Homo sapiens: one gene and its partners. The protein of the gene in region 1 purifies or fractionates together with the protein of each later gene. This does not show direct contact. Each region holds a gene or a part of one and is shown in the gene's direction. Other genes may lie near its edges. The genes, in order: ASPM, RCN2, LIMS1, CALU, DNAJB2, KATNA1 and TUBGCP3.

Evidence for each region.
Region 2: the proteins of ASPM (region 1) and RCN2 purify together in Homo sapiens (affinity purification with mass spectrometry; 2 studies listed by BioGRID and IntAct, with this or other methods). This does not show direct contact.
Region 3: the proteins of ASPM (region 1) and LIMS1 purify together in Homo sapiens (affinity purification with mass spectrometry; one large-scale study listed by BioGRID and IntAct). This does not show direct contact.
Region 4: the proteins of ASPM (region 1) and CALU purify together in Homo sapiens (affinity purification with mass spectrometry; one large-scale study listed by BioGRID and IntAct). This does not show direct contact.
Region 5: the proteins of ASPM (region 1) and DNAJB2 purify together in Homo sapiens (co-immunoprecipitation; one large-scale study listed by IntAct). This does not show direct contact.
Region 6: the proteins of ASPM (region 1) and KATNA1 purify together in Homo sapiens (pull-down; one study listed by IntAct). This does not show direct contact.
Region 7: the proteins of ASPM (region 1) and TUBGCP3 purify together in Homo sapiens (pull-down; one study listed by IntAct). This does not show direct contact.

What each region holds. Positions count from the first base shown.
Region 1 is NC_000001.11:197,136,670-197,140,169, reverse strand, and holds part of ASPM (abnormal spindle-like microcephaly-associated protein), read left to right. Parts: intron 1-298; coding exon 299-403; intron 404-862; exon of another isoform or gene 863-1,622; intron 1,623-3,500. UniProt on the Homo sapiens protein: Involved in mitotic spindle regulation and coordination of mitotic processes.
Region 2 is NC_000015.10:76,941,749-76,945,248, forward strand, and holds part of RCN2 (reticulocalbin-2 isoform a precursor), read left to right. Parts: intron 1-2,009; coding exon 2,010-2,123; intron 2,124-3,500.
Region 3 is NC_000002.12:108,673,970-108,677,469, forward strand, and holds part of LIMS1 (LIM and senescent cell antigen-like-containing domain protein 1), read left to right. Parts: intron 1-1,908; coding exon 1,909-2,059; intron 2,060-2,636; coding exon 2,637-2,729; intron 2,730-2,825; exon of another isoform or gene 2,826-2,961; intron 2,962-3,344; exon of another isoform or gene 3,345-3,500. UniProt on the Homo sapiens protein: Within the IPP (ILK-PINCH-PARVIN) complex, binds to F-actin, promoting F-actin bundling, a process required to generate force for actin cytoskeleton reorganization and subsequent dynamic cell adhesion events such as cell spreading and migration.
Region 4 is NC_000007.14:128,742,359-128,745,858, forward strand, and holds part of CALU (calumenin isoform a precursor), read left to right. Parts: intron 1-3,500. UniProt on the Homo sapiens protein: Involved in regulation of vitamin K-dependent carboxylation of multiple N-terminal glutamate residues. Seems to inhibit gamma-carboxylase GGCX. Binds 7 calcium ions with a low affinity.
Region 5 is NC_000002.12:219,284,881-219,287,395, forward strand, and holds the end of DNAJB2 (dnaJ homolog subfamily B member 2), read left to right. Parts: coding exon 1-107; 3' UTR 108-1,106; coding exon of another isoform or gene 1,107-1,117; 3' UTR 1,118-2,015; downstream 2,016-2,515. UniProt on the Homo sapiens protein: Functions as a co-chaperone, regulating the substrate binding and activating the ATPase activity of chaperones of the HSP70/heat shock protein 70 family. In parallel, also contributes to the ubiquitin-dependent proteasomal degradation of misfolded proteins.
Region 6 is NC_000006.12:149,631,715-149,635,214, reverse strand, and holds part of KATNA1 (katanin p60 ATPase-containing subunit A1), read left to right. Parts: intron 1-2,298; coding exon 2,299-2,456; intron 2,457-3,500. UniProt on the Homo sapiens protein: Catalytic subunit of a complex which severs microtubules in an ATP-dependent manner. Microtubule severing may promote rapid reorganization of cellular microtubule arrays and the release of microtubules from the centrosome following nucleation.
Region 7 is NC_000013.11:112,553,654-112,557,153, reverse strand, and holds part of TUBGCP3 (gamma-tubulin complex component 3), read left to right. Parts: intron 1-929; coding exon 930-1,102; intron 1,103-2,148; coding exon 2,149-2,267; intron 2,268-2,971; coding exon 2,972-3,097; intron 3,098-3,500. UniProt on the Homo sapiens protein: Component of the gamma-tubulin ring complex (gTuRC) which mediates microtubule nucleation.

The sequences.
Region 1 (3,500 bases):
TGCATATTCTCAGCACCTCGTAGAGAGTCTGGAATATACAGACACAATAAGTTTTGGTTGAATCTAGACTTTAGCCTCTGTAAACACAAAATAAATTGTGGTTTATGGTCTGTGACTTCTGGATGTTGGTTTGATAAACCACTGAATTCATAGCATTAGTGCGTGGAGTACAGTGGTTATTAAGTGTTTGCTAAATGAATATGATTGTGAAGAACCCAAACTTTAACTTTCAAATCACTGACCTATTTAGGGAATTTGTATTTTAATGCTCTTAGTTTTGTTTTCTAATTTATTTTAGATTTATCAATATTCAGAACTCCAATTTCTAAAACAAACAAAAGGACAAAACCCATTATCGCTGTGGCACAGTCCAGTTTGACCTTCATAAAACCATTAAAAACAGGCAAGTATTTATTATACTTAAACTCTCTGAAAACATGACATCGAATGAAGCATTAATTGCATTTCACATGGAAATGAATTGATTTTTGTTGTTGAATAACAGCCTGGAAGAATTGTTAAAGTGTGTATTAAAATGACAGGATATTGTGTCAACTTTCTGTTTGATAAAAGAAATAAAGACCAAATGTTCAATAGATCAGTAGGGTCACTATAGTAATTATTGTATATTTCAAAATAGCTAGAAGAGAATAACTGATGTTTCTAGCATAAAGAAAAGACAGATATTTGGACTGCGGGCACCCACGACCATGCCCGGCTAATTTTTTTGTATTTTTAGTGGAGACGGGGTTTCACCGTGTTGGCCGGGGTGGTCGGGCAATCTCCTGACCTCGTGATCCCTCCCCTCGCCTCCCAGGGTGCTGGGATTTCAGGCGTGAGCCACCGCGCCCGGCCAAAAACATGGGCTGTTATCCTTTGCTGTGGTAGGGAGTATGGATGAAGTGAAAGTTGGTAAAAGGATGGTCAGAGGCCGTCACTAGCCTTGGGGAGTTTTCCAAGTGGAAAATGAAAATCACTGTGACTTCGTTAAGCTCCAAGATATGCTTCTTTGTACCAATGTGGAAAATCTAAAAGAAAAACCTACACTCAGCACTATGAATGCTGTAGGTACCAAAAACTGCAGAAAATGGGCTTTACAGATCTGGGCCCAGACAACCAGCCAGTTAGTTTTCAAGAAATCTTTGAAGCCAAAAGACAAGAGTGCTATGATCAATGTCAGAGAGAAGAAGAGTTGAAACAGATTTATGCAGCGAGTCAAGGAGAAAGAAGCTGAAAAAGAGCTGCAGGACAAGTTCAAGCATCTTAAAATGATTCAACAGGAGGAGATAAGGAAGCTCGAAGAAGAGAAAAAACAACTGGAAGGAGAAATAATAGATTTTTTATAAAATGAAGGCTGCTTCTGAGGCACTGCAGACTCAGCTGAGCACCAATACAAAGAAAGACAAACATCGTAAGAAATAATCGTTTCTCTTAATTTTCTGTTTGAGAGCCCTATCATTCACATCCCAGCTTCCTGTGATTGTATTTGTAGCATTTAAATCTGATTGAAGTTCTTATTTTAAAAATTGGCTTGCTTATTGTATATTTTCCCTAACTAAAGTGTGAACTCCTAGTGGGGCGTGGTGGCTCATGCCTGTGATCCCAGCACTTTGGGAGGCTGAGGCAGGTGGACCATCTGAGGTCAGGAGTTCAAGACCAGCCTGACCAGGATGATGAGGCCCTGTCTCTGCTGGGAATACAAGAGTTGGCTGGGCTTGGTGGCCGGTACCTGTGGTCCCAGCTGCTTGGGAGGCTGGGAGAGTCACTTGGGCCCCAGAGGTGGAGGTTGCAGCGAGCCAGGTTCTTGCCATTGCACTCCAGCCTGGGCGACAAGGGCGGGACTCCATCTCAAGAAATAAAAAGGTGTGAACTCCCTGAAGACAGGTCCTGTGTCCATCTTTTCAGATTCTGTATCCTGGCACTTAGGATGTAGACTAACACGAAGATGACATTCAATCAATATTTGCCAAAATGAAAAAATAAACATGTAACATCATGTTAAAGGAGCAGTTTAGGTGGAGAAATTTCTTTACCATAGTCCTGCTTGTGGATCCAGTAGTGACTTTTACATTTTATATCTAAATAGAAGCTTGAGGCTTTGTTGGGGACTCATAGGCATAAAATATTATGTTATACAAATCTAATTAATAGGCCTATTTTCCTTTTTAAATTCTAATAATTTCTTGATAGTTTTTATTATGATAAAAGATTGGATTTTGATTAGAACTCTCATGCTTTTATGTCAGACTTAAAACTGATATTAGAATAAAGAATTCAAAAGCTAGAGAAAATCAGAGTACAATGAGAAGCCATGAGTTGCATTTGAATGATAATATTATGTCTTACAGATTTGGGGTATACGCTAAAGTTATCAAAGTTGTAAAAATAAGGCTGGGTGCAGTGGCTTACACCTGTGGTCCCAGCACTTTGGGAGGCCAAAGTGGGCGGATCACTTGAGGTCAGGAGTTTGTGACCTGCCCGGCTGGCATGGTGAAACCCCATCCCTACTGATAATGCAGAAGTTGGCTGGGCATGATGGTGTGCACCTGTAGTCCCTGCTACTCGAAAGGCTGAGGCGGGAGAGTCGCTTATACCCAGGAGGCAGAGGTGCAGTGAACAGAGATTGTGCCACTGCACTCCAGCATGAGTGACAGAGCGCTATGAGTCACTACACCTGGTATGAGCCACCATGCCCGGCCTACGATGACTTTTATACATGTTGTTAAATCATCTTACAGATTTTATAATTTGGGGGAAGAAAAATTTTACTAAATGGTCTTTTAATGGAAACTACAAGAACCAGAATCTTTGCTTTGTTCACTTAAGTGTCCATTCCTAGGCCTAGAACAATGTCTGACACATAGCGGCAATTATTCCTTGAATAAATGGACCCAGCAATAGTACATTAGCTATGCTATATGCATAAATTAAAAATGTAGATTATTGACTTTCAAAAAATAATTAATGTGACTTCTTACTGCTTCTGAACATGTTTGTGAGTTATATTGCTGAGGGACCTTTATCTTCTCATTCTTTCATCTTAATCCAATGTTATTAAAATTGAAATCACCAATATTATTCCATATCTAAAAATAATATCTACCTTATAAAAATTATCACTCTGCTGCATTTGAGAATAGACTTTTTAGGTAATAATAGTATGATCCATAGGGTTTTTTTAGGGCACAGAAGGATTCATGCTAACAGAACATTTTATTTTCTATTTTCCCAGAGCTATAAAACATGATATTATATGATAACTATAAGGCATATTTTTACTCTGTTCATATTTTTTCTAAAAAAAATTAGTGTTTGTTTCCCATATAACTTTTAATTTTATAAGTAAATATTTGTCTCTTTCAGCTCCAGTTTTATGTGAAATAGAGTTTCCAGATTTATGTAGCATGGAGAGTTTTAATAAGTCAGAGTTACTGATTTTTGCCAGTCATTTTCTCAGTTGTTAACTTCTTTTATCTTTAGTTGATTTTTTTTGTAGTGAC
Region 2 (3,500 bases), on another chromosome or scaffold:
TACCCCCTTCACTTTTTTTTTTTTTAAAGAAATCTCAGCTTGTTGAAAGAGATCCTTTCTTTCCATAGGCAAATTTGGCCAAATTTAGCTCTTCTCCTGAAACATGGACCTTTTTGCTCCAAAGTGAAGGGTTCTTTCATAAGGAAATCAAAGCACTTGGTATTTTGAATAATGGTTTATTCAAAAAGAACTTGATTGACTCAGCAAAGTACCTCAAATTCTTGTTTGTCTGCTTTTACCATGTTAAACCTGAACATAAAATGCAAATTATTTGGTCTAGTTATTTAAAATTTTGAAACATTAAGTTAAAAGCTATTTGGAAACAAGTTATTATTTTTTCTTTTCTGTCATGATTGGGTGAATATAACTGGCTTGTAGAGTCTGATGTTAATAAAACAAATTCTTTGGGGAAAGAGGTGAGCCTCTCCGCTGTAAATCAGTAATTGTAAAAGAACTAGTGTTTAGGTAAATGACTGCTACCTGACCTCTATTATTCTAGAAGACTGAAGAGGGTATTTTTATTCAGTAGTGAAACACTTAAAAGCTTCTAAAATATTTGAAATTGTGCTTTAAAAAAATGCACAGTTTAATACATATCAGTTTATAGGAAGGAAAGCTATTCCCAGAAATTCTCAAAACAGAAATTATGCAGGATTAGCAGTATAGCATTATTGGCTCCCAAGGCTCTTGGTTACAGAATTACCATTGAAAATTTTATCAAAAGCAGCCTTGTCCCTGATAGCTGCCGAATCATTTTTAAAAAGGGGGGTGGATGGGAAGATGGGAGAGAAAGTAGAAAAGGATATGTGTTTATTAAACCTTAACATGGGATCCATTTAAACTTTTGATGTTATTTATATCTGAATATACAGAATTAACACTATAAAGAGCCTGCTAAGACTAGACTTCCAGGCTGAGCACGGTGACTCATGCCTGTAGTCCCAGCATTTTGGGAGGCTGAGGCAGGTGGATAGCCTGAGCTCAGGAGTTTGAGACCAGCCTGGGCAACATAGTGAAACCCCATCTCTATCAAAAATACAAAAAATTAGCTGGGTGTGGTGGCACATGCCTGTGGTCCCCACTACTTGGGAGGCTGGGGTGGGAGGATCACTTGAACCTGGGCGGTGGAGGTTTCAGTAAGCCGAGATTGCACCACTGTACTCCAACCTGGATGACGGAGTGAGACCTCATCTCCCCACCCCCCAAAAAAGAAAAGATTTCCAAATATTAGGTACATATACTAATATTATGAGATTCTCAACATAAGAAGACTGTTTTTCTGAAACAATAATGTATTTTTGAAAAGTCACTTAGAGGACCAGAAACATTTTTTAAAAGCCCTACCAAGATTTAATACATGGTATAAAGTTATTGATTTTTGGGCATTCAAAAAAGTATTGAGATTAATTATTAAAGTAGACAGTATAGTACTGTAGAAAGAATAGGGAGGATCCAAGTTCAGTAGTTTTGTTTGTTTTTTGAGTCAGGGTCTTGCTATGGTGTGAAGGCTGGCCTTGAACTTCTGGGCTCATGCAGTCTTCCCAAGTTGCTGGAACTACAGGCGTGCGCCACTATGCCATGCTCAGTATTTTTTAGCTGTATTTCTGACTTTTATCAAATCATTCAATCTGCTTTTCTATCAATAATAGTATATAACACTAAATACTTAAGGTTTATTAATGGTGTGGTAGGGATTCTCATCCCAATTGCTTATTAGAGATTTTTATCCCAGTTTGATAGATGAGGAAACCAGAGAGGTTAAGCAGTTTGCGCTGACACCACAGCTAGTAAGTGGCATTGCTGGAATTCAGGTCTGGGTCTATATGACTCTAGAGCTTGTGAGTCTATCCTGCCCCTAATACATGTATTTGTGTAGCTTACCTTCAAAGGGACGATGTGAAGATAAATGAGATAACGGATGGGAATGTACTTTAAATTTCACATAGTTTGTATTTTTCAAAGTATTTAAAATGATGTGGTATACTAATGAGAAATTTTAATTTTCAAAGCTTCACTTAAAGGACAAGAAGCGATTTGAAAAAGCTAACCAGGATTCAGGTCCCGGTTTGAGTCTTGAAGAATTTATTGCTTTTGAGCATCCTGAAGAAGTTGATTATATGACGGTAAGAAAGAAACATTTTTAAGAGAATTATTGAGTGACCAAAACTTTAAAAAAATATATTTAAAATTTTTGTGGGTACATAGTAGGTATATATGTTTATGGGATACATGAGACTTTTTTTTTTTTTTTTTTTTTTTTTTGAGACGGAGTATCGCTCTGTCGCCCAGGCTGGAGTGCAGTGGGGCGATCTCGGCTTACTGCAAGCTCCGCCTCCCGTGTTCACGCCATTCTCCTGCCTCAGCCTCTCTGAGTAGCTGGAACTACAGGCGCCCGCCACTACACCTGGCTAATTTTTTGTATTTTCAGTAGAGACGGGGTTTCACCGTGGTCTCAATCTCCTGACCTCGTGATCCGCCCGCCTCGGCTTGCCAAAGTGCTGGGATTATAAGCGTGAGCCACCGCGCCCGGCCGAGATGTTTTGATACAGGCATGCAATGTGAAATAATCAGATCATAGACAATGAGGTATCCATCCCCTCGAACTTTTATCCTTTGTGTTACTAACAATCCCGTGAACACTCTTTTAGTTATTTTAAAATGTATAATTAGTTACTACTGACTATAGTCAACCCTGTTATGCTGTCAAATAATAGATCTTATTCATTCTTACTGTTTTTTTTGTACTCATTAACTGTTCTCAGCGCCCCCTCCCCCAACACTTCCCAGTCTCTGGTAACCATCTTCTACCGTCTATGTCCATGAGTTCAATTGTTTTGATTTTTAGATCCCACAAATGAGTGAGAACATGGGATGTTTGTCTTTCTGTGCCTGACTTATTTCACTTAATATGATCTCCAGTTCATCCATGCTGTTGTGTGGATCAACATGTTGTTGCAGGATCTCTTTCTTTTTTATGACTGAATAGTACTCCATTGTGTATATGTACATTTTCTTTATCCATTCATCTGTTGATGTACGCTTGGGTTGCTTCCAAATCTTGGCTTTTGTGAACAGTGCTACAACAAACATGGGAGTGCAGATATTTCTTTGACATAGTGGTTTCCTTTCTTTTGGGTATATACCCAGCAGTGGGATTGCTGGATCATATGGTAGCTCTATTTTTAGTTTTTTGAGGAACCTCCAAACTGTTCTCCATAGTGGTTGTATGAATTTACATTTCCAAGTAACCAAAACTTTAAAACCTGTTCATTAAGTTGTTAAAATGAATTGTATAACCAGAATTTTAAGAGATACACAGATTTAAAATGATGCTCATTCTCCCCACTTAAAATTAGGCTTGGTAAGGAGGCTTTCTTGTGGTGACGAAGTTGCTTATTGGGAGGGAGAAGGTGAAAGACTGAATTTTTAAATCTCTGTACTATGTATGAACAGCAGGCTTCCTCAGGCTATTTTCTCTCATAACTGTGTTACCTTCAGTG
Region 3 (3,500 bases), on another chromosome or scaffold:
GTTATGATAAATTGTTGGGCTATGAATTTTTCTCAGTTTGCTGCCTAGTATAAAAATTTAGTGGATAAAGATTCTTGGCCGGGCGTGGTGGCTCACACCTGTAATCCCAGCACTTTGGGAGGCCGAGGCGGGCAGATCACGAGGTCAGGAGATCAAGACCATCCTGGCTAACACGGTGAAACCCCGTCTCTACTAAAAAATACAAAAAAAATTAGCCGGGCACGGTGGCGGGTGCCTATAGTCCCAGCTACTTGGAAGGCTGAGGCAGGAGAATGGCAGGAACCCGGAAGGCGGAGGTTGCAGTGAGCTGAGATCGCACCACTGCACTCGAACCTGGGAGACAGAGCGTGACTCCATCTCAAAAAATAAAAATAAAAAAATATTCTTTACTGTAGTTAATGTGAACTTACTTGCTAAATTATAGTAGGGATGGAGAAGAAACAGTAAGCCAAATACTAAGAAAACAGTTTGGGCCAGGTGCAGTGGCACACGCCTGTAATCCCAGCACTTTGGGAGGCCGAGGCGGGTGGATCACGAGGTCAGGAGATCGAGACCATCCTGGCTAACATGGTGAAACCCCATCTCTACTAAGAATAAAAAAATTAGCCAGGCGTGGTGGTGGGTGCCTGTAGTCCCAGCTACTCGGGAGGCTGAGGCAGGAGAATGGCATGAACCTGGGAGGTGGAGCTTGCAGTGAGTGTGGATCGCGCCACTGCACTCCAGCCTGGGCAGCAAAGCAAGACTCGTCTCAAAAAAAAAAAAAAAAAAAGAGAAAGAAAGAAAACAGTTTGGTTGTATAAGTTCAGCCATCTCATCTTTTGTGATTGAATTATCAGTTTGTGCCTTATCTCGTTTTCTTGCCTGTCCTTCCTCTTGGGGATTCACCTCTGTCCACTTTTCATTAGCATCTCTCCTAGAGAATTACATAAAAGGGATGAAATTCAAACAAGTCCGTTTGACTAATTGGGACCATCTCTGACCAAATGTTTATTGATGCAGGAGACTGAAAATAATATTTAATTTGAGTATTTGGAGAAGGAAAATTCTGGGCATTTTGTTGTTTATGAAAATAAACCTATTAACCTATAACTATTTTCAACAGCTTGTGACAATTTAAATAATTGTTAGTAAATGGAACTAGTCTCCCAACTTCTCAGTTTGCTTGGAAAGGTCGTGTGTTAGTCTATTTTATGCGCCTGTAACAGAATACCACAAACTGGGTAATTTGTAACCAACAGAAGTTTATTTGGCTCATGGTTCTGGAGGCTGGGAAGTCCAAGATCAAGGGGCTGGCATCTGGTGAGGACCTTCTTCTGCATCATTACATAGCAGAGGGCATCACATGGTGGGGGAAGAGGAGGGGGGAAGGAAGAGAAGGAAGGAGGCTGAACTCGTCCTTTTATAAGGAACCCACCCCCTCAGTAACAGCGTTAATCCATCTGTGAGGGCAGAGCCTTCATGATGTAATCACCCCTTAGAGGTCCTACCTCTCAACACCTCAGAATTGGGGATCATGAACTTTGGGGACACAGTCACACCATAGCAGATAGTATTACTGAGTCTACCCTCAGCACTGTGATTATTCCCTGTAGCTTTTAGAGGAAGACAAATGGACTAAAATGTAATGTGATAATATAAGAAGGAAATTATGAATATGACTGGTGTGGTGGTATGTATCTGACCTAGTCTTGCATCTTATCCTTTTAAGATACAGATGTTTTGGTAGGAGTCTGAAACCTGTTCAGGCCTATTAATTCAGGTTATTCTGATCACCTCTAAAGGGGAAAAAAGAAATTTGCAGGGATTGTCATAGTAATGTCTTTAAAAACCTTCTAAAAAGTGTGCTAGCCCCATTGGTTGGCCACTTTTCTCTCTTAGTATTAAGCTGTGTGTCTTTCTCACGGACAGGAAGGAGCTGACTGCCGATGCACGGGAGCTGAAAGGGGAGCTATACTGCCTCCCATGCCATGATAAAATGGGGGTCCCCATCTGTGGTGCTTGCCGACGGCCCATCGAAGGGCGCGTGGTGAACGCTATGGGCAAGCAGTGGCATGTGGAGGTGAGTTCTAAATGGCAAAGGGTAACCAATCCTTTCAAATCTCCATGATTAAGGGGTAACCAATACTTTCAGATCTCCCATGATTCAGGGGTAACCAGTACTTTCAAATCTTCATGATTCAGGTGTCCTGGCAAGATTAGGAGACTCTAAAGATTAAACGTGGACATTTTAAAGACAATTGACTTTGCTGACAGCTAAGAATATATAATGTACACTGCTTTTGTGAATGTCTCAGTAATGATACAGGATGTGTACTTTTGCTCCTAAAGCCTTCTTGAAGCAGGAAGTGCCATGGTCTGTATCCAGCAGCAGCTCCTCCTTTATAGGTGCTACTGAGATGCTCACCTCTATTCTCTTTTTGGGCTATTATAATAGGCTATGTCTTAAAGTAACCTTCAAAGACAGACACCTGAATTACAACTGCAGAAGTATTATATTATGGGGCCACCTATGGCCAAATGAAATGACTGTCTCAAACTTTCCTTCATCTTCTCTGAAAATAGGTTAACTCTGGTATTTACTTTATTAGATATAAAATATGGCAATTCAAAAATGACCTATAGCAATTTTTTTTCAGCATTTTGTTTGTGCCAAGTGTGAGAAACCCTTTCTTGGACATCGCCATTATGAGAGGAAAGGCCTGGCATATTGTGAAACTCACTATAACCAGGTATTGACCTTAGTCACTGGATGCTAGATAGACTTTTATGAACCTAAGCTTATCAGTAGTTTAGCTACAAGGAAATCTCTTGGAAGATGTACATTGTTCAGTAGAGATTTGTTTTTAACTTTTTATTTGGGAAATAATTTCAGACTCAGAAGCTAACTATAAAATATACAAAGAATACCTGTATGTCTTTCATTCAAGTCCACAGTTTGCTTTATCATTTCCCAAGCTCAGTCTTCCTGTGTAAAACACATAGTTACGTAAATATTATATACAAGTACGATGGCTGTTTTGCCAATAAGTTCATCATACTCCTTTATCCCTAAATACTTCAGTGTATATTTCCCAAGAATATGGGACTCTCTAACATAATTGTAGTTATCAATATTGATACCGTACTCTAACCATTTATTCCAGTTTTGTCACTTGAGTCAATATCCTCACAGCATTTTTTCCACTCCCAGACTGGACCCAGCCTCTGGCTGTGATGTTTCTTTAGCCTTCTTAAATCTGGAACGTTTCCAGAGTCTTTTAAAATTTTTGATGACATTGACATTTTGGAGGGATGCAGAGGGCCCCTAACCCCTTTTTAATAGACTACTTTCCACTTGGGTTCACCTGGTGCTTCTCTGTGCTTAGATGAGGTTATACACAGCAGGTTGTGGCCTCATACAGTGGCAGGGCATCTTCTCAGAACCTTGCCCCTGGAGCATTTTATACCTCTCCTGCCCTGGTGATCTCCCAGGCATGGTGCTGGCTGATAACATCACTGTG
Region 4 (3,500 bases), on another chromosome or scaffold:
TTCTGGTGAATATCCATCCAGCTCAGAGAACTGGAATTTTACTACCACACCCATTTCTCCCAATTGTTAACATTGAGCAATGGGTCTTTGGTCAACCATAATAACTGTTGGATCACTCAGTGTTAACGTTCTTGTGAAGTTGAATTTAAACATCTAAATTTCCCTGAAACAATTTAAGTATTCTGTGACCAATGGCACTTTACCAAAATTGAAAGTTTGGGCCATGTATTGCTCGCAATACTGGTCCAATGGATACACTATGGACACTAAGGACAAAAACTTCCTTGAAAGCTCTAAGTTCTTACCTGAAGGGTGGGGTAGGGAGAAGTGATAAGAATTTAGAGCTTTTAAGGACATTTTTGGATGGATCGAAGAAACCAATTCTTAAGACTCATTATTATTAAAATCACACTTAACCCAGTTAGGCTTTTCTCTTTATAAATTACTGGAACGATTCATGAAAACAACTTTATAGAAGACCATTATTGGTGACATACTAATACTACAAAAGGATGATAGCTACTGGATATATTTTCTGTTCTAATCTTTTGGTTTGTGTCTAACATGCTGTCCAATAAAAATATAATACAAGCCACATATGTAATTTTAAATTTTCAGGTGAAAATCTAAAACAGGTGAAAGTAATTTTAATAATGTTTAATCTAATACATATAAAATACCATTCTTTCAATATGAAATGTAACACTTATACCAATCGCAATTCACACTAGCCACATTTCAAGTGCTTAGTAGTCACATGTGGCTAGTGGCTACTGTACTGGGCAGTACAGGCCTAGATTTTTTTTTTTTCCCAAGAAAAAAATATTAGATGTTACCCTTCGTGGAAGAGGGACAGAATTTTAGAGAGAGAAACTCATTTGAGAAATGGGAGGTGGGGAAATTCAGTTTTCACAACCATTGGTTTACTTTCTAGATCACATGATAAAAGCTCATACAGCTAAGTCTTTTGTTTATGTGTATCATATTTTTCCTAATATTATGTTGTCCATTATGTCCATAGTATATCCATTGGACCAGTATTGTGATCAGTATGTATGGCCCAATGGATACACAAAGATCTTTCCAGCTGGAAGTGATCTGTACCTATTCCTCTAAACTTTTTTTTTACTTTTTGGACAAAAGTATCCAATTTAAACTTTTTTTTTTCTTTTTCTTTTTTTGAGACAGGGTCTTGTTCCCTCACCAAGGCTGGAGTGTGGTGGCATGATCATGACTCACTGTAACCTCGTGTCTCCGGGGCTCAGGCGATCCTCCCACTTCAGCTTCCCCGGTAGCTGGGACTATAGCTGCGCCACCACACCCAGCTAATTTTTTGTATTTTTGGTGGAGATGGGATTGCCTAGGCTGGTCTTGAACACCAGCATTCCATCCGCCTTGGCCCTCCAAAGTGCTGGGATTACAGGCTTGAGCCACTGCTGCTGGCCCAGTCTAAACTTTTATAAAGTGTTGAAGTGGGTGAGGAAAATGAGAAGGGCCATTAACTTTGTATCATTTGGTTTCAATTTGGTTGAAAAGACAAAGATGCTTCAGAAATGAAGTGTACTGGCTGGTCATGGTAGCTCACACCTGTAATCCCGACACTTTGGGAGGCCGAGACGGGAGAATCACTTGAGGTCAGGAGTTTGAGACCAACCTGGACAACATGGTGAAACCCTGTATCTACTAAAAATACAAAAATTATTCGGGCGTGGTAGACCATGCCTGTAATCCCAGCTATTGAGGAGGCTGAGGCAGGAGAATCACTTGAACCCAGGAGGTGGAGGTTGCAGTGAGCCAAGATCACACCACTGCACTCCATCCTGGGCAACAGAGACAGACTCAGTCTCAACAAAAGAAAACGAAGTGCACTAAAGTAGATTTTCAAATGCTGTGTATGAAGTTATTTTTTACTGTTCCTTTCACATCTTCCCACGTAAGATATCCTTTGTCTTAGATGTCCTTTGTTTCTGCTTGAACATACATGCTCCATACCAAAAACCATATGGTTTTAGATAAATCTAGTACAGTTTTTGGTATGGATGGTGTTTTTTGTTTTTAGTGTCTATATTCATAAAACAAGAGGGCTTTGTTAAAGTTTCTAATAGCCAGGAGTTGTTATATATGTGGGCACAAAGGACGTTTTGTTTTTTTTTAAGTAGAACTTCTTTAAAGTGCAGATTTTTCATTCCTCCCTGCAGAAAGATAAAGAAGTAAAGATGGACCATTGGCTTTGTCCATCTGGGTCCTTGATGACCGTTGTAGGCAGTTTCATCAATAGTAAGGAAGCCAGGTTTCAGGGTAGCATTGGACAGTGAGGAAGCAGAGGCAGCAGGGTAGAAACTGTGGGTGAGGGAAAGGGAGGAGCAAGCATGAAGGAACAGCACAGTCTGGGAAAGACTGTGGGTAGTGGAGACCTGAGAAGCACTGATTGACAGAATGGAGGAGCCTGTTTAAGGGATGAGATTGAAAGTTTATTCAGGAGAGGGGAAGGAAGGAGAAATGGGTGAGTGATAAAGCTAAATCACTTGGCTTCTACTCTTTGGAATTCTGGTATCCTTGTATCAAGATATTAAGCCTGAAACATAAATGTAGTTTTCCCTCTAAATCACAGAGTAAACCAATCTATTACATTTCTGTATGCTACATGTCTCAAAACTTGGTACAGTATCCTTTCCAGGACCAGATTATGTTAGAGTGCATAAGTATTTATTCATATTGTAATATTTGGGGTTGGCAAGAATTGTTAGGGTATTATGCTATATTTTATTTTGAGAATGTAATCATTTGTAAAATTTTCCTAAAGATAAAGTCCCCTTAGGCATAAGGAAAATCCTTTGTTGCAGTGACTCTTGATTTTACTTGATTCTGCAAGCCTCTGTCACTATACATATTGTTGGGATATATCCCAAAACATCAACAACATATAATTCTGTTTTTTGTTTCCAAAGTTTTGTTTATCTAAAGAATTATTTGTTTATAGGCTGGGTATGGTGGCTTACGACTGTAATCCCAGCACTTTGGGAGGCCAGGGCTGGAGGATCGCTTGAGACCAGTCTGGGCAACATAGTGAGACTCTACAACATTTTTTTTTTTTTAATTTGCTGTGCATGGTGGTACACACTTGTATTCCCAGCTACTTGGGAGGCTGAAGTGGGAGGATGGTCTGAGCCCCAGAGGACCAGACTGCAGTGAGCTATCATCACACCACTATATCTAGCCTGGGTGACAGAGTAAGACCCTGTCTCAAAAAAAGAATTGTTTATAGTTTGAGATAGAAGTTTCATTTTGCCCTGAAGTAAAGGCATACTCACTTTAATGTTGTATTTATAGAGCCGCTAAATCTCGGATTTTCTGTTTACTCTTTAACTGATTTGATTGATCAGTTGAATTATTGGAGGGTCAGCCAGAGTGTTGTTCACCCAGAGCAATATTTTACAAGTGGTGCACACAGAAAGCTAATAAACATGAGAGTGTGCTGTTCATACAAATTAGACAGTACA
Region 5 (2,515 bases), on another chromosome or scaffold:
AGCACCAAGATCCAGGCTTGGGGGGGACCCAGGAGGGTGCGAGGGGTGAAGCAACCAAACGCAGTCCATCCCCAGAGGAGAAGGCCTCTCGCTGCCTCATCCTCTGAACACCGGGCCCAACCTGATCTGATCCAGATCTTGACTGGGGGGTCTGACTCACTGTGGGAAGAGAAGAGGGGAGTATCCTGAGTTGTAGGAACTGCTTTCCAACTCCAAGCTCCCTCCACAAGTTTCCCTCCCAGGCCCCCCACACCCCAGTGTGGACTTGGGATTTGCTGTGCTCAGCCCAGGGCTGATAGGTCCCTGGTGAAGCCCAGGGTGGGGGGTGTCAGGGCAGTGGAGGGGCCCGAGGAGCCAGGTTGCATTTATTGGATGGGGAGCTCCAAGGGGCATTAGTGGTTTGGGCTGGGCCTTTTGTGCCCTGGTACTCTGCCACCTGTGTTGCTGATGGTGTCAAGGAAGGAGGACTTGGCCTAGGGTTGTCTGAGCCGGAGCCGGCAGCTCCACTGGAGAGCAGTGCAGGCAGAGTGGAGCCTCCTGCTCTCCTGGACCAGCTGCAGACCCCCAACCCTGGTTTCTGTGCCATGTTGCGCTCTGACCGTCTCTGTTGCTTCTCTTCTGGTGTTGCTTCTCCTCCCTCCCATTCTCTCTGCAACTCCCTGCGGGCCGCATCGCTTGCTTTCACTGCCGTCTGGCTAGGACTCCCTTCTTCCTTCCTTCCCCGAGAAGGCCTCAATGTGGCGAGGAAGATGCTGGGGCCGGTAGGGCTGTGAGATCTTCTGGGGAGGCTAGCCGGGTGGGGCGGGAGCCTCTCAGCTGTCCAGATTCAGAACTGGAGCCCACTCCTCCTCCCTCTCGTTGCCTCAGCCTGCCCTCACCCTCAGGACTAGGCAGAGGTGAGGCTGGCTCACCCTGAAGAGGTGGGATAGGACCGGGGGACCCCAGAGGGAGGCCTAGGAGGGGACTGCACCCATACTGCTTCCCTACCACAAATCAGGGCTCAGGGAGAGGCCATGCGGCCAGCCCAGGTCTGCATGCTGAGCCCCATCCTCCACAGCTTGCCGCTGACGCTCTCTCCTGTCACCCCGCCCCTGCTCTCTCCCCAGATGTGTTCTGAGCTGGATGCCGGGTTCCAGAATCGCTGCACAGTTCCAACAGGACAGCGCCTTCCCCCATGCGCTGGGAGGGGACCCTCCATTTCTCCCCCTCACCCATGCTGAGTGTAGAGCCGGGGCCTGGGTGGCGGGTGGGGGCCGGGTGGGAGGTGGCAGTAGTCTTAGCCTGTGCACTCTCTTCCTTGGGTGTTTGGTGCTGGCTCCTGGGGACTACAAATCCCAGAGTGCGGTGTGCCCGGCCTCATTTCTGATAGATCCCGCTTGGGGGAGGTGGTGTATGGTTACGGAGCTGTGCATCTTGGGACATGTAGTAGCCCAGGTCGGCTTGTCACTCGCTGTGAGATGGGGAGATTTTGTCTTTTGATTTATCCCTGTAGGGCTGGCAGGGTTGTAGATGAAGGGGGAATGATCTGAGCCTTGGTTCCCCTGACACGTCTTGCTAGCCCCAGGGTTAGAGTGGGCAGGGCAGAGCCGCGCAGCACCTGGGAGCGGTACCTTTCCCTTGGGCAGCCTGGGGTCCCAGGAACAAGCCAGGGCGAGTGGCATGTCTGCCTGAGCAGGGTGTGGCCCCAGAAAGCTGAGGAGTGTGGGCTGGCAGAGAGCTTCGAGGGCAAGGCCACCCGCGGGGGCGTGTGTGTGGTGGGGCTTGGCATGTGATGGCAGCTCCAGGCATGCCGCTGCTTGTATGGCTTTCTTTGGCCTCTGACCCTGCTGCCCATTCTTTCCAACATCACAGATGAACTGCCTCTCCTCCTCCCTGCCTGGGGAGCCCAGTGGCCAGGGAGGGGAGTGGTGGAGCCAGTCGCTGTAACACTGAGCCTCAGAGACGAACCAAAACCAGCTGGGCTGAGCTCAGATCCAGGGGGAAATGCTGGAAGTCAATAAAACTGAGTTTTGAGAGCTTGGTGGTGTGTTGTGTTCTTGGGTTCCTACTTTCCGGGGTGGCCCAGGAGGGCCTCTAAGGGACAGTGGGTGACACCTCAGGCCTCACACCTCCCTTTATGCCCCTACAGCTAGAGGTGCAGGCCTTGCCAGTTGAAGGCAGAAATGCCCTCTTTGACCAGGCTGCCCTCCCCAGGTATGTTATGGAACCCCAAGCAATGCTTCATTCTTTGCTTTCACCTCTTGGGGGCCTACAACTGGCTTTCCCTAGCAGCCGATGTTCCCCTTATGAGTGGCCTCACCCCCTAGTACTCCACAGCACAGCTAGGACCATACTCAAGTTAAGACTTAACTGAGGCTGGGCGCGGTGGCTCACGCCTATAATCTTAGCACTTTGGGAGGCTGAGGCGGGCAGATCACTTGAGGCCAGAAGTTTGAGACCAGCCTGGCCAACGTGGCAAAACCCCATCTCTACTTAAAAAAATACCAAAAAAAAAACCCCCCAAAAAACAACAAAA
Region 6 (3,500 bases), on another chromosome or scaffold:
GCCTTAACTCCTCAGGCTCAAGCAATCCTCCCACCCAGCCTCCAGAGTAGCTGGGGCCACAGGCACAAACCAACATGCCTGGCTTATATTTTTTTTAGAGATGGGTTATTGTTATGTTGCCCAAGATTAGTTTTTAAATTGCGTCAAGATTCCTTTTCTCTTTTATTTTTGAGGTGGAGCCTTACTCTCAAAACTAGGGCCATTTTACTGCATTCCAGACTGGATGACAGAATGAGACCCTGTCTCTAAAAAATATTTGAAAAAAAAAAAAAAGACTGCTTTTAAAAAAATACCTTGGTTGCATATGAATTGAGACCTATTTTAGTCTGTAGGTTGTGACCCATTAGCCATAAAATTAGTATATTCTGATCAGTGTTGTATTGATTTTTAGAAATTATTTACTGATATATAATAGTTGTACATATCTTGGGCATACACATTATATTTTGATTCCTGTATACAATATCTAATGATCAAATCAGGGTAATTGGGATTAATCAGCATTTTAAAAGTTAATTAAACAGAATAAAAATTATCAAAGTAGGGCTGGGCATGGTGGCTCACACCTGTAATCCCAGCACTTTGAGAAGCTGAGGTGAGAGGATGGCTTGAACCCAGGAGTTTGAGGTTATGGTGAGCTATGATCGTGCCACTGTAGTACAGCCTGGGCAACAGAATGAAACCTTGTCTCTAAAACATAAAAATAAAAGTTTGACAAAAATGAAACTTTCACAAGTTGTGCTTTGATGGTTTTTTTTCCCCCTTGGGCTCAAGCAATTCTCTCACCTCAGCCTCTAAAGTAGGCAGGACTACAGGCATGGGCCACCATGCCCAGCTAATTATTCTTGTAGAACTTTAAAGTTATGCCTAACTTTTCAATTTGTTATGCAATTTATTTTATTTTATTTTATTTTATTTTATTTTATTTTATTTTATTTTTTTGAGATGGAGTCTTGCTCTGTTGCCCAGGCAGGAGTGCAATGGTGCGATCTCGGCTCACTGCAACTTCCGCCTCCTGGGTTCAAGCGATTGTTGTGGCTCGGCCTCCCAAGTAGCTGAGATTCCAGGTGCCCGCCACCACACCCAGCTAATTTTTGTATTTTTAATAGAGATGGGGTTTCAACATGTTGGCCAGGCTGGTCTTGAATGCCTGACCTCAGGTGATCTGCCCTCCTTGGCCTCCCAAAGTGTTGAGATTACAGGTGTGAGCCACCGCGCCTGGCCTGTTATGCAATTTATTTATTTATTTATTTATTTGAGCCGGAGTTTCACTCTTGTTGCCCAGGCTGGAGTGCAATGGTGTGATCTCCGGCTTGCCGCAACCTCCGCCTCCCAGGTTCAAGCGATTCTCCTGCCTCAGCCTCCCGAGTAGCTGGGATTACGTGCATGTGCCACCACACCCGGCTATGCAATTTAAATAAGAATATAAATTAGTAGTATGATTTAGTTAGCCTGGATTTTTTTTTTATTTTTTATTTTTTTGAGACAGATTCTTGCTATGTTGCCCAGGCTGGAGTGCAGTGGCGTGATCTTGGCTTTCTGCAACCTCCATCTCCTGGGCTCAAGAGATTCCCCTGCCTCAGCCTCCCAGGTAGCTGGGCCTGTAGGTGCCTGCCCCCATGCCTGGCTAACTTTTTGTATTTTTAGTAGAGATGGGGTTTTTACCATGTTGGCCAGGCTTGTCTCAAACTCCTGAGCTCAAGTGATCCATCTACCTCAGCCTCCCTAAAGTGCTGGGATTACAGGCGTGGATGTTTCCTATCCTGGATGTTTTAATTCATTTTATCAGAATTAATTTTGCAATTGAGGGCCGAGCGCAGTGGCTCACGCCTGTAATCCCAGCATTTTGGGAGGCCTAGGCGGGTGGATCACGAGGTCAGGAGATCAAGACCATCCTGGCTAACATGGTGAAACCCTGTCTCTACTAAAAATACACAAAATTAGCCAGGCGTGGTGGCGGGCGCCTGTAGTCCCAGCTACTCGGGAGGCTGAGGCAGGAGAATGGCCTGAACCCAGGAAGCAGAGCTTGCAATGAGCCGAGAGTGATCACGCCACTGCACTCCAGCCTGGGCGACAGAGTGAGACTCCATCTCCAAAAAAAAAAAAAAAAAAAATTGCAATTGAAAACATAAATTTAATAAACTGTTATTAACATTTTGATAGAATATCTTGATGTGGTTTACTGGATATCTGATATCAAAATGGAGTTTTGTAACATCTCTAGTAAATGGCCCTCATTTAATTTTGACAGTGATATATTATAGAAATTTAAACATCCATCTTCTTCTTTGAAATCAGGTTTGGCAGGAAATAAATGTGGAAGCTAAACATGTTAAAGATATCATGAAAACACTAGAGAGCTTTAAACTGGACAGCACTCCCTTGAAAGCGGCACAGCATGACCTTCCAGCTTCTGAGGGAGAAGTCTGGTCCATGCCTGTACCTGTTGAACGAAGGTAAGTGGAAACCTTTTAAGAAACCAGTTATCCCAAGAAGCTTATAGCATTGATTATATTTAGGAGGAGGATGGGGTGGCTGAGAGACAGGAATGGGAGGGAGTTTTCTTTACTGAACGTTCTCTCTTTTATAACTCACTGGTCTTGAACCTTGTGCCTTTTTGACCTATTTCAAAAAATAAGATTTAGGTAGGAATAATTTAAAAATATGCTTTTGTGAATGACCTTACAGTGGTAGAGACAGTGTTATCTTGTGGAAGGAGAATGGGGTTAGGAATTGAAATATCCAAGCTCCGTGTCTGTCTTTGCCACTCTCTGTAGCTTTGGGAAAATAATAAAACCTTTTTAGGCCTCAGATTTTTCTTTTTTTTCTTTTTTTTTTTTTTAGACAGAGTCTCACTCTGTCACGAGGCTGGAGTGCAGTGGCACGATCTCGGCTCGCTGCAATCTCTGCCTCCCGGGTTCAAGTGACTTCCCTGCCTCAGCCTCCTGAGCAGCTGGGACTACAGGCACACACCACCTGTATTTTAGTAGAGACGGGGTTTCACCATGTTGGCCAGGCTGGTCTCGTTCTCCTCACCTCGTGATCCACCTGCCTCAGCCTCCCAAAGTGCTGGGATTACAGGCCTGAGCCACCGTGCCCAGCCAGGCCTCAGATTTTTCTTACGCAAAGAGAGGAAGTTAGACTAACAGTGGTTCTCAAACAGGGATCACAGAATACTTCTTTTCATCAAGCTATAATGAAAAATGGAAAATTTTTCTAAATTTGCTAAAATTGAAAAAATTGGCTTTTTAATTCATAGAGAACAGTAAAAATAAAATGTTCTGAATTTTAGGGTTTTCTCTGGCTTTTTTTCCCCAACTTCCTACTACCAAGTGCCAGCAGATGAACAACTAGTGATACTGATATTTACTGAAATACTGTAACTAGCCAATCATGCATAGTTTTACTGCACATTTTTCAACTGACAAGTGTGCAGGTGGATGTTATCTATTTCACTTACATAATAGATTTCCTAGTTTGTATTATAGATTTAAATATTG
Region 7 (3,500 bases), on another chromosome or scaffold:
TTTAGAATCATCCTCTTAAATTTAGAACTATGCCCAGAGACATAGTTTTAGTGAATGTTGTTGACTTCTCTCCTGATGAAAATGGAATAAAATAAGAACTGTTTCAGTTCTTTCCTGTTCTCCTTACTTCACGAGTGGATTATGGATAAACCCCCCCAGTATTGCACCAGTACTAAATCCAAGCTCTGGCACCTGGAAACTGTAGAGCAGCTGAGGTTCTCATTTTTGTGTTTTGTAGTCCCAGGAAGTGATATTTTTGTTGCACCTGTCAAAACTGACGCTATTAGAAATCAGCTATGAGGTTCTTACATTTTTCAAAAAACAACTTTGACATAGTCTCAAAATTGCTGACAAGCCATCTTGACCTTGAATATGCATTTGCCTTAGATTTTATACGTTTGTATACTTTAGCAGTTAATTGAAAATTGCAGTTTCTTTTCATAGTGAGCACTCTGAAGGCTGAAGACAGGTGAGGCCAGGCGCCTGGGGCAGTGTCACAGTGACTCGATTCCTCTGCTCAGTACATGGGGAGTGAACGAGAGTTGTGGATTTTGAAGTTAAAATAAGTAGAGAATTTCAAAGTGGTTATGGGGTGGGTAAGGTATGTTATATGTTTATAAAGAAAAGCCAAATAGATTTTGATATTAATGGTAAGAAATATATATTGTAAGGTAGCAGTAAGATGATTTTTCCACTGCTGTGTTGGGTCCGAATGCTAGGCCAAGGGTCGCAAGGAGGCTTGACCAAGTTCAAGGGACTTGGGACTGTCTGTTATTGATATATTCGGTTAGGGTAAAGTCATGGTATCAGCTATACCAGATTTATAAATTTATGTAATTCACGATAGTAATACAAGAGAAATTTCTAGGGACACTTTTGTCTCTTCAGCGAATAGCCTATTAGAAGATAATACATGTTTCTTTTTTTAGACAGTCTAATCAAGCTCCAGGAGTAGGAGATTGCCTTCGACAGCAGTTGGGGTCACGACTCGCATGGACTTTAACTGCAAATCAGCCTTCTTCACAAGCCACTACCTCAAAAGGTGTCCCCAGTGCTGTGTCTCGCAACATGACAAGGTCCAGGAGAGAAGGGGATACGGGTGGTGAGTAAGGATCTATGTTAATACAGCTTTTCTGTGAACACTTGGAATTCAGCCTCTCCTTATTTTAAAGTACAGCCCAGGAGCCCCACCTCAAACCTTTTAGTGGTTTCTTCTTGTTCTTATGATGAAGTCCAGAGTCCCTGGTGGTCTGCGGCGCCTTGGGGAGTTTGGCTTTTCACCCCAGGCCACCTGGGCTTTTTCCTCCCAGCACAGTCTGCTTTTTGGCTGCTTTTCCATGTGGCCTCCTCCCTCCACATCTCTCGTCTTTGCTGTTCCTCATCACATTCTCCCTGTCTGTTTTCATCCTGCCGTTTCCCTGGGAAAGTCTTTAAGGCTGGGTTAGGCCCCCAGTAAAAGTCACCTTCTTCTACCAAAGTCTTAAGGCCACAGAGGGGCTATGTCTTTTCATTTATGGTGCCAGTGCTCAGCACAGTGCCTGGCACGTCGAAGAGAGTCATTGAGGAATTACTGAATGGTGAGATGAATACCTCATGGAGGGTTTTAAAGCCCTGCTAGATTCCAAAAGGAAGCTTGAGTTTCTTTATTGAGAACACTACAGTTAGCAGCATTTGAAACATGAGTGTCCTGAAAACAGAGGATTGGGTTTCCCTGTTGGCTCGTAATCTGCTGATTACGAAATGGCTCTGGATGTTACCTGTACCTGTCCTTGCGTAGAATGCAAAGGTGAGGAGCATCTGAGAGCTGGAGGACATCCTGGCACAGTATTAGCCCCCGCAGTAGTCTCCACCATCTGCCCCACTCCGCCTGTCCCTGTGTGTGGCTCCCGCGTCCAGCCTCTGTCCACAGCTGCAGATTCATGTCGTGTTTGACAGCTGTGCGTTCATGGCACAGCAGGCCAACCTCTAGACTGAGACTCGCCTTGTTTCTTTCTAATCTCATACTCTTTTTCATCTTGAGCTTATTTATTGAGTTAGTAAATTTCATCGGGGTGGCAAATATCTAATCTGAAGCTAATTGCACCATAATATCTATTGTCTGTTAAAATATTGTCTAGTAATTACTGTCTTTAAAAAATGATTTTGCAGGTACTATGGAAATTACAGAAGCAGCTCTGGTAAGGGACATTTTGTACGTCTTTCAGGGCATAGATGGCAAAAACATCAAAATGAACAACACTGAAAATTGTTACAAAGTAGAAGGAAAGGTACAGTAACATAAAATCTAAGTTAAAATATTCAGAAAGAAAAAACATGTCATGAAGTCCAGATAGTGGCTGTTGATTGATAAGGTGGTACTGGGGTTTTGCGAATCGGTTGTGAGGTGAAATTGCACTGTGGAATTCTGGTTTCTATTTCTGTCCATTGTGGCTCGTTCAGTTTTGTTATGGGGACCCTTTGTGATTAATGTGTGCCTCCTTTCCTCACGTCTACTGATGGGGCTGCCCCATAGCTGATTTCTGCATCCTGCTGTGTGATGGCTGAGGCACCCAGGGGACAGAGGTCCCTTGGCACCTTCGGCATTGATGCAGGATTCCAGGTCAGGGGTCTTCACCCACTTTTGTTTCCTTTTTCCATAATCTGCCTTTACCATGCCCATTTCTTGTGGTGTGGGTCACACTGTGGCTCTTAGCCCTTTCACAGCGTGGCTGAGATCACAGACCTTCTCTGCCACACCGCAGGCCAACTGCAGGGTGGTGTGAAATGAGCTCACCATGCCCTTTGAGGTGCTTTCCATCATGCTGTCACTTAATGTGCTTTCCTTCCCTTTAGTGATGGGATCTTAGTTTTAACTTTTATGTCTTGAAGCCTAAGGATTATAGTATTAAAAGTAGAAGTGCTTGAGAAAAATACTAATTAAAGCTCTAGTATTGCTTTTTAATGTTTAACATTTGATGTATTTACTTTTTAGGCAAATCTAAGTAGGTCTTTGAGAGACACAGCAGTCAGGCTTTCTGAGTTGGGATGGTTGCATAATAAAATCAGAAGATACACGGACCAGAGGAGCCTGGACCGCTCATTCGGACTCGTCGGGCAGGTGCGTTCATGGTTCCTAGGATGCTGGGATGCTGCGCACTTTGGGAAACGCTTACTCTAGTTGAAATCTTACTGTGAAATAGCTCCTTCTAAGGCTCTTTCCAAGTAAAGCAGCTTTGAGAGTCAACTTTCAGGGTCCACTCAAGACAGTAGAAACCACAGTAGGTGCTGATGAGGACACTGAATACAGCAGGTTGGCTCAGGAACTGCTGGAGGACTGTAAAATACAGAGAAAATGGTGAGACAGAGCTGGCCATGGGGAGCTGGCATTGCCCGATTCCAAACGCTCGAAGGGGGCCCTGCCCAGCTGCTGCTGCCTCCTCCAGAAGGTTGAGGAGGGGCCCTGCTGGGACGGGGCCTGCCAACAGGGGACACTCCCAGCTGCGTGATTCCCCAGGCAGCAC